Linked DNA regions of Homo sapiens: region 2 is reported to be linked to region 1. The links are microRNA targets in miRTarBase. Many come from high-throughput screens and were not tested one by one. Region 1 holds a microRNA gene; the other region holds the end of a gene's coding sequence.

The links. Region 1 holds the annotated microRNA hsa-miR-34a-5p (UGGCAGUGUCUUAGCUGGUUGU, at 1,572-1,593, opposite strand). A microRNA usually pairs through its seed, bases 2 to 8, with sites in the 3' UTR of a target mRNA and lowers its output. Matches are read on the target gene's strand: a 7mer-m8 pairs with bases 2 to 8, a 7mer-A1 pairs with bases 2 to 7 and ends in A, and an 8mer does both.
Region 2: miRTarBase lists POP1 as a target of hsa-miR-34a-5p. The part of its 3' UTR that is shown has no 7-base or 8-base seed match.

Annotation. Positions count from the first base shown.
Region 1 is chr1:9,150,164-9,154,230 of GRCh38, forward strand. MIR34A (microRNA 34a) reads right to left here and starts at 1,614; the gene lies at 1,505-1,614. MIR34AHG (MIR34A host gene) reads right to left here. Exons shown (of 2, transcript NR_132742.1): 2 at 1-1,672. RefSeq lists a silencer at 1,423-1,659.
Region 2 is chr8:98,157,615-98,161,681 of GRCh38, reverse strand. It overlaps POP1 (POP1 ribonuclease P/MRP subunit), which reads right to left. Exons shown (of 16, transcript NM_001145860.2): 16 at 1,847-4,065. The coding sequence ends at 3,411. Among named protein-coding and RNA genes, the nearest start is that of NIPAL2-AS1, 17 kb to the left of the region's middle.

The sequences.
Region 1 (4,067 bases):
TCCAGCATTGAGAGGGAGGGAGGGCTGGCTTAACTGGGGGACGGCCTTCTCATCTGGACTGTGTCAAGGCCAAGGTTAGGCTCCAAATTCCAGAAAACCTCTCTGCAGGGTCTTCTTTCAGAGTGGTGAGAATGGAAGCAGGCTCCCTTCCCCTCCAGCACTAGGAAGCCCCGCAATTGGTGAGGTGCAAAGAAAGATGGGCCCAGGCAGGGAGGCGGGAGCAGGGGAGGTGCCCAGGGCAGTGGCTGGAAGGGCAACGGGAGAAGCAGCAGAGGCTGGGGGTGGGGGTCGCAGCAGGTGCTGTCCCTGGCCTGTGTGAAAGGTACTAGAAGGCCCCATCCTTGGTGCCACATGGACCCCAGAGGCTTGTCTTAGTCCATGGGGTCCGAGGTGTAAGACACTTACGTTTGGCGTCACCTCTTAGGCTTGGATGAATTTCAGAAAGTGCTAGACTGGAGAACAGTGGAAAAAATCAGTGGAACAAGATCTGGAGCACTCACTGCTCAATGTCAATGTTAGAGAGCACAACGACACCAATGGGAGGAGGGTGAGGACCAGAGGCTGATTGCATGAGCTCTGTTGGAGTGCAGGACCCACTAACGGGTTATCTCAGGGTTCCTGGAGGCCACGGCTGTGCCTTGTGGTCCAAGACCTGGGGAAGCCACCACTGTGTCTTCCCTCTCCATCCTCCGGTGACTTTGGTCCAATTCCTGTTGCCATGGCAATCAGCCCAGCTGGCCTCACAGTTCACTGGCCTCAAAGTTGGCATCTGTAGGTGAAGCCAGTGGGACCCAGAGAACTTAATTCTTCTCAACTGAGCTGGCTTGGAGGAACTTTTCTCATCAGCCACTGGAGCAGAGAACGTCACCAGCGTCTCACTGACGTCAACATCCTGGGCCTGGCTCTAGCTGAAAAGGAAAATTCTCCCCAAGGCAGACACATCTCCCGAAGCCCACACAGGCACTTTCTATGATTGCACTGGAAATCTGTCTCCTGGGGACAGGGAGCGCGTACGCTCACAGTCAAGTCACAATGTTGAGCAGTCTCCAGGACTCCACGTTCATCTCTAAGAACAGGAGCCGGTGGTTGGGCGCAGATTCTTGAGCCAGATTGCTCGCGTTCAAAACCTGGTCCCTTTTTATTAATTGCATGCTTAGTTACATTTTCTGTTTGTACTTTTGTTTCCTTCTCTGCAAGACGGGGTTAATCACAGACACTTGTACATGATGTAATACACTTACAATACTTAGGACAGGCCTTCCTGCATAGTAAGTGCTCTGCAAACACTGGCTACTATTCTCCCTACGTGCAAACTTCTCCCAGCCAAAAGCCGCCCACACCAAGCCCCTGTGCCTTTTTCCTTCCGCACCCACGAGCAGGCTGCTCCTGGGGCCCTGGAGCTCACTTTCCCAGCCGCCCTCACCACCCACCGTGGCGCAGAAGAGCTTCCGAAGTCCTGGCGTCTCCCACTGGTCTGGGCATCTCTCGCTTCATCTTCCCTCTTGGGCCCCACAACGTGCAGCACTTCTAGGGCAGTATACTTGCTGATTGCTTCCTTACTATTGCTCACAACAACCAGCTAAGACACTGCCAAAGAAACACTCACAGCTGGCCGGTCCACGGCATCCGGAGGGGACTCGGGGGACAGGCCTGTCCTGCCTCTCCCCAGCACCTGTTGATAAGAAGGAAATGTGGGGAGGAAAGAAAGGATGCAGGAGGCCGAGGTGGGAGGATCGCTTCAGGCCAGGAGTTCAAGACCAGCCCAGGCAACTAGCAAGACTCCATCTCTACAAAAAAATTTTAAAAATTAGCCAGGCATGGTGACATGCGTGCCTGTAGTCCTAGCTACTGGAGAGGCCAGGGCAGGAGGATCGCTTGAGCCCAGGGGTTGAGGCTGCAGGGAGCTGTGATTGCGCCAGTCTGGGTGACAGGGTGAGACCCCGTCTCTAAAAATAAAAATTGGGTGATGGCTCACACCTGTAATCCCAGCAATTTTGGAGGCCAAGACAGGAGGATCACTTGAGGCGAGAAGTTCAAAACCAGCCTGGTTAACATAGCCAGACCACCACCTTCAGCAACTGTCTCTACAAAATGAAAATAAAAATAATGAAAGAGAGAGGATGGAGGAGAAGGCTGAGACCAGTAACAGATTCCAAAAGGACTAATTGACAAGGAGAAAAAGAGTCAGCACTTCCCTGGAAGAGAAAAAATTCGAAAAGGACAGTGGTTGAAAAGTCAGCATGTCTGCGTGAAAGGGAAGCAATGAAGTAGCGCCAACTCCTCCCCCGTCCCGGGCACCGTTTAGGGAGAGGATCAGAGTTCTGCCAGAGAATCAGAACCAGAAGGAGATATAGATTAAGTTTATTTCAAGGAATCGGCTTACGTGATTGTGGGGGCTGGCTAGGCAAGTCTGAAATCCAGAGGGCAGGCCAGCAGGCCGGAAGCTCCCCGGAGGAGCTGACACTGCAGTCCCCAGGCAGGATTTCTTCTTCTTCAGGGAAACCTCGGTTCTGCTCTTGAGGCCTTTCAACCGATTGCATGAGGCCCACCCACCTCGCAGAGGAGAACCTTTGACTTACAGCCAGTGATCATCAGTGCTGACCACATGTACAACGCACCTCACAGTAGCACCCAGGCAAGCGTTTGGTTGAATCATGGGTATCACAGCCTCGCTAAATTGACAAGGAAATTGCCCATCACAGGGTTTAAGATCTAGTGCTTTAAGATCTACTGACTTCTTGTTGTTTTGTTGTTGTTGTTTTTATAGAGATGGGTTCTTGCCATGTTGCCCAGGATGGTCTCAAACTCCTGGGCTCAAGTGATCCTTCCGCCTCGGCCTCCCAAAATACTGGGGTTATAGGCATGAACCACTATGCCAGGCCAAGATCTAGTGACTTTGGATACGGACCACCACGGAACAGTTCCTCTTCCATGTGGGTGTGGGGGCATGAAGGACTGTTTTCAGGAGGATCAAAGTCACCTCTACCCCAGCATGGGAAGTCCCAGAAACTTGAGTTCCAGGTAAGGTAGTGCAGAAAAAAGCAGGCTCATGAGCCAGTGCTGTCTCTCTCTGTGCAAGGGGGAAAGAGCCCCTCTGAGGCCTCCACACACAGTCAGCAGGACACAGGACACAGAGGTCAGCCTGTTGTGGCCACTGTGAAATGTCCCGTTGGAGTTGACAGGAGCCTGCTCTGACCTCAGTCCTCCTCCTCCAAACAGGTGACCCTGTAATGCTCTGGTTAAAAAGCAAGCCAGCTGGACTGTGTTATCTTTTAGTGTGGGAAAAATGCTCTTAGGCCGGGCGTGGTGGCTCACACCTGTAATCCCAGTACTTTGGGAGGCTGAGGTGGGTGGATCACTTGAGATCAGGAGTTCGAGATCAGCCTGGTCAACATGGTGAAACGCCATCTCTACTACCAAAAAAAAAAAAAAAATACAAAAATTAGCTAGGCATGGTGGCATGTGCCTGTAGTTCCAGGTACCTGGGAGGCTGAGGCAGGAGAGTTGCTTGAACCTGGGAGGCAGAGGTTGCAGATCACACCAGTGCACTCCAGCCTGGGTGACAGAGCGAGACTCTGTCTTAAAAAAAAAAAAAAAGCTCCTAATATGTCAGATTTTAACCCAAAGGTAAATTCCAGCAGGGCATGCTCATCAGCTAGAGCGGCAGGTCTCGGCTTCACTGTGTAAGCATCGGCTGGGGAGCTTTTGGTAAAATGCAGATTCCCAGGTTCAAACCTAGAAGTTCAGACTTGGCAGCTCTGGGATGATGCCAAAGGTACATCCTGCAGTTGCTGTGTCCCCAGGTCAGCGCAGAGACAAGCAAAAACTCAAAGCTTCCTCCCTCCCTCAACTCCCAGCCAAGACTGGACGGGGCAGGGGACCCCAGAATCCTGAAAACAGATAGCCACATGGAAACAGTGACCACAGCACACTTGAACTTTGTAAGCACAGCAGAAGCGTGTGGGATGGGCTGGCCCATCCAGAGATGGGGTGCAAGAGGCAGGAATCTGGCCTCATGGTGGCTCCTGGCTTCAGCCCCAGCACTGCCACCAGAGGGAGGGCCGTGT
Region 2 (4,067 bases), not on the chromosome of region 1:
GGAGAGGAGGGGAGAGGAGGGGAGAGGAGGGGAGAGGAGGGGAGAGGAGGGGAAAGGAGGGGAGAGGAGGGGAGGGGAGGGGAGGAGAGGGGAAGGGGAGGAAAGGAAAGGAGAGGGGAAGGGGAGGGGAAGGGAAGGGTGCCAAGACTGGAAGCTGCTGTTGCCAAAGAAAAGGCAGTGCCTGTATTCCTCTGTGTCCTCAGGAGGCCTATAATAACCAGAACCGCTGTGAAACTGGGGTTGATGCTTGAGTGGCCCACAGTTGCTACAGGCTATGTATTCTCTGCTAAACAGCTCAATCCTGGACCTATCTCTGTGCTCCCCAGGCCTCAGATCGGCTGGCTACGAGTAGGCCAGTTAAGACTATGAGGGAGTCCATATAGCTTGTCAACCGCCCCCCTCACCTCCCACTGGTTGGGAAGAAAGAACTCACGCAAGGCATGTGGCCGCCAAGACGGCAATGCTACACTTAGTACATGATGGGTGGTTACATACTAACTTCCCATTTAAAAAAAAAAAAAAAAAAAAGGAGTATTATCCTTAAAGCTCTTGCCAGTCAAGCACCAACAAAAAAACTGGTAACATGCACTCTGCTGCACTTGCATGGTATAGCTCTTTATATAAGCAACGGCTTATGTTATTAAAAGAAAACTACCCACATACATCTTAACGTCTAGGATACATAACAGAAGGTAACTAGTTATATTGCATGGTGAAAATCCAGGTGATTTAAATTTTGTTATTGTTGCTCATCTTCATTTTCTAATTGTTTTATGATGAATATGGATGACTGATATGAACAATATTACTAGAGCATAAACACCAAAAGGAATCCATTGTTTCTTACAGAACTCAAGTGCATAGCTGGTCTGTAAGTGTTCAGCTCACAACTCTGCCTTTTCTTTTCTTTTTTTTTTTTTGGAATGGAGTTTTGCTCTTGTTACCCAGGCTGGAGTGCAATGGTGCGATCTCGGCTCATTGCAACCTCCGCCTCCCGGGTTCAAGCAATTCTCCTGCCTCAGCCTCTCAAGCAGCTGGGATGGCAGGCATGCGCCACCATGCCTGGCTAATTTTGTATTTTTGGTAGAGACAGGGTTTCACCATGTTGGTCAGGATGCTTCAAGAACCCTAAAAGCATTGCTCCCTCAACAAGAGGACAAGGGCCACATTGCACTTATTTGGTAGCTATGTAGCTCTAGTACAGCATGGCAGGCACTTGGAAGGATCAAGATCAACACGCTAATCAATTCAACTGCCAGAAAGTAAGCCATTCCCCTATCAGTCTTTTTCATAAGGAACATGGATTCTTTACTGCCTCTGCAGAGTCTGTTAGTTTTTCAACGTATCTTCTGTGAAACTAGTGTTCTCTGGACAATAGGTATGCAAAAACCAAAAAAGGTACGTGTGTGGGAGTCTGAAAGACAGATTTCTTTCCTAAAGAGCTTTGCAGAGCTTTGACTCTGCAAGTATTCATTGTGAATCATAATAGGAGGATACCATATATAGCTTTTCCCATATTTATTTAGCCATAAAATACTTTTCTCCAGGAACAGCTGCAGGGACTAGTACTCCCAGGAATACATTTTGGGAAATGCTAATCTATCTTTCTGGTGCGCAGCTCTTTGACCTACCACCCACCAGGCAGAGTGGCTGCAAACGTGCCCTGTCCCCTATAATGAGGGCGGGGCAGCAGGCCCTAGGCAGGGCTGTACAGAATGAGGTTAGGTGACCACGCAGCACACTCAGACTTCTGTCATCGAGTGAGCTCAGCCACAAATGAGGTGACTGAGAGCCCAGAAAACAAATAAGGAATGGTCCAATAAATATAAATATTCACAACTGAACATCAGGTGACATTTTCATTTATTCTGTTTACAGATGCCACTTAGTTACACTGTTTTTTTTTTTTCAGTCTCATCTGGGTTGGATCCAAAGACATTCAGAGGCATGGTAAGAGGCAAAGCATCAGACATCTCATTGGTGGCAGGTACTTCCTGACTACTGTACCACCTGCTGTATCCTTCCCCACCTCATCACCCCCAAAGCCATTTAGTGCCAAATGCTACAGTAAAAACCCAATGCATTTACATAAAATAATGCCTAACTGCATATTTACATTTTTTAGAAAAAAAATCCCATTAAGCTCTTCTAGAAAGTTATGGCAGGAAAGGTAAGGACCAAGGCTATGAGCAAGCCATATGTGGAAACTTAAAGTAGATGAGCACTGAGTTTCTCCATAGTTGGAAAAAAGCCACACTGAGCCCACTCTTCCTGTGAGGCAAGATGAGACCTTCCTTTTATACCCTGTTGAGAATCTCAGGTGGACAACGTGACTGCATGAGTGTTGAAAGGCAGCTTGCCGGCTTAGTTATCACCTTGCAGAGGTAGCTATGCACTACACAGCCACACTGCCCAAAGCGCGCTACTAAGAACACTGGTCCTACAAAGGGCTCCTTGTAAGAGAACTTTAGGAATCACAAGTATTTAGAAAATACTATACACTATCATTTCCTTCCTAGAGATCCGCAATGCACATTATCACATGGAAGTTTCCAGAAGTTCTTTCATAAAGAAATGCTTAACTTTATTTAACCTAGAGTTTCCATATCAACCTGACCTTGGAATCTCTTACTTTTTTAGGTGACACATATCATAGAACATATTCTGAGAAATGCTCCTCTATGGCTTTGAGAAAATCTTTGCAGAAACAAAATAATAATAATTTTTTACTTAAAAAAATTAAGTAACTAGTAGGATCAAGTGTTGGTCAACAACAAAGAGATCAAAGAGTCAGGAAGTCCACGTCATAGACCCCCACTTTCTAATTCCAGCCTAGCACTGACGCCATAAACTGTGCCTGCCTGAAAACAGGCAGAAATCAGTTGTCCATGATTTCTCTCTTTAAGGCTTGAGTTGTTCGGCATGGAAATCACAGTACAGAATTGAATGAGGTCCATCAGGAGCCCATATTTCATGTACAGAGGCCAAGCGTCTTCTCTTGTCTTCTGCTATAACAGTGAAATCATTAAACATCTATTGTTGCTTATCACATGACTATGAGGTTTTTCAAATAGACCTGACAAGCCCTTTGTTTCTAACAAAAAAAGGGGATGATAACTCGTAGAGCTTCTCATTATTTTCAGCCACAACTACACAGACCAAGAGATCATAATACAAAGCTTTTGGCCAAATAATTTAAAAGTATTACAGCAAGGACAGGGAAAGATGAAAATCAATGACATTACTGGAATGATGTAAACATTTCATCATCTGCATAATACATAATTTTTTATTCTTGTTTCCAGGGAGTTTCACATGATATTTTAAAGCAGAAGCAGATTCTCCACATGTAGAACTTGGCAGACAATAATAACGTATTATCTATGCCCTGCTGGGATACAAGCACGCATTCACACCTCAATAGCAATCCTCGCAAATCGATACTGCAGAGAGGCGGGAGGCCTCAGTAGCACTAAGCCCCTCTGCGCTGCAGGCTGGCTGGACAGCATATCCAGCAAGCCTGTCAAGCTAACAAACCCCAGGGCTTCTCCACAGCCAACAGCCATGGAAAAATCTCCCTGAGTCACAAAGCCTAGGAGAGTTCTGGAGCAGTGCAACGTCACACGCGGCAGAGGGCCTGACCACAGCCCTAGAGTCAGAGCTTCCTGCCCAGCCACGGGCTCTTCCCCCGCCGGGCCATCAGAAGAGGCACGTCCTGGCTTCTGCCTCTTCTCCCTTTTCTTCTTCTCTTTCTGTTTCAGGATCTTGCTCCTGAATGGGTCACTGTGTTTGGATTCCTGGGGCCCACAGTAATGCCAGTCCTCATGGAGCTGGAGGAAGTCCTCCTTGGCTGGGACACAGATCATGGTGTGAGGCTCGGGGCTGCCCTTGCTGAGCAGGGACAGGCTGACCCAAACCAGGGCCCTGGGGAAGTGGCCCAAGATGGACAGGCAAGCCTCTCTGGTCAATCCTTGCTGGCCTCTGCCGGGAGCTCGCCGGCCTCCCCGACTATCCTCAGAACTGGGCCCACACCAGGCTGACAGTTGCTTCAGTAATTTTCTACTCCT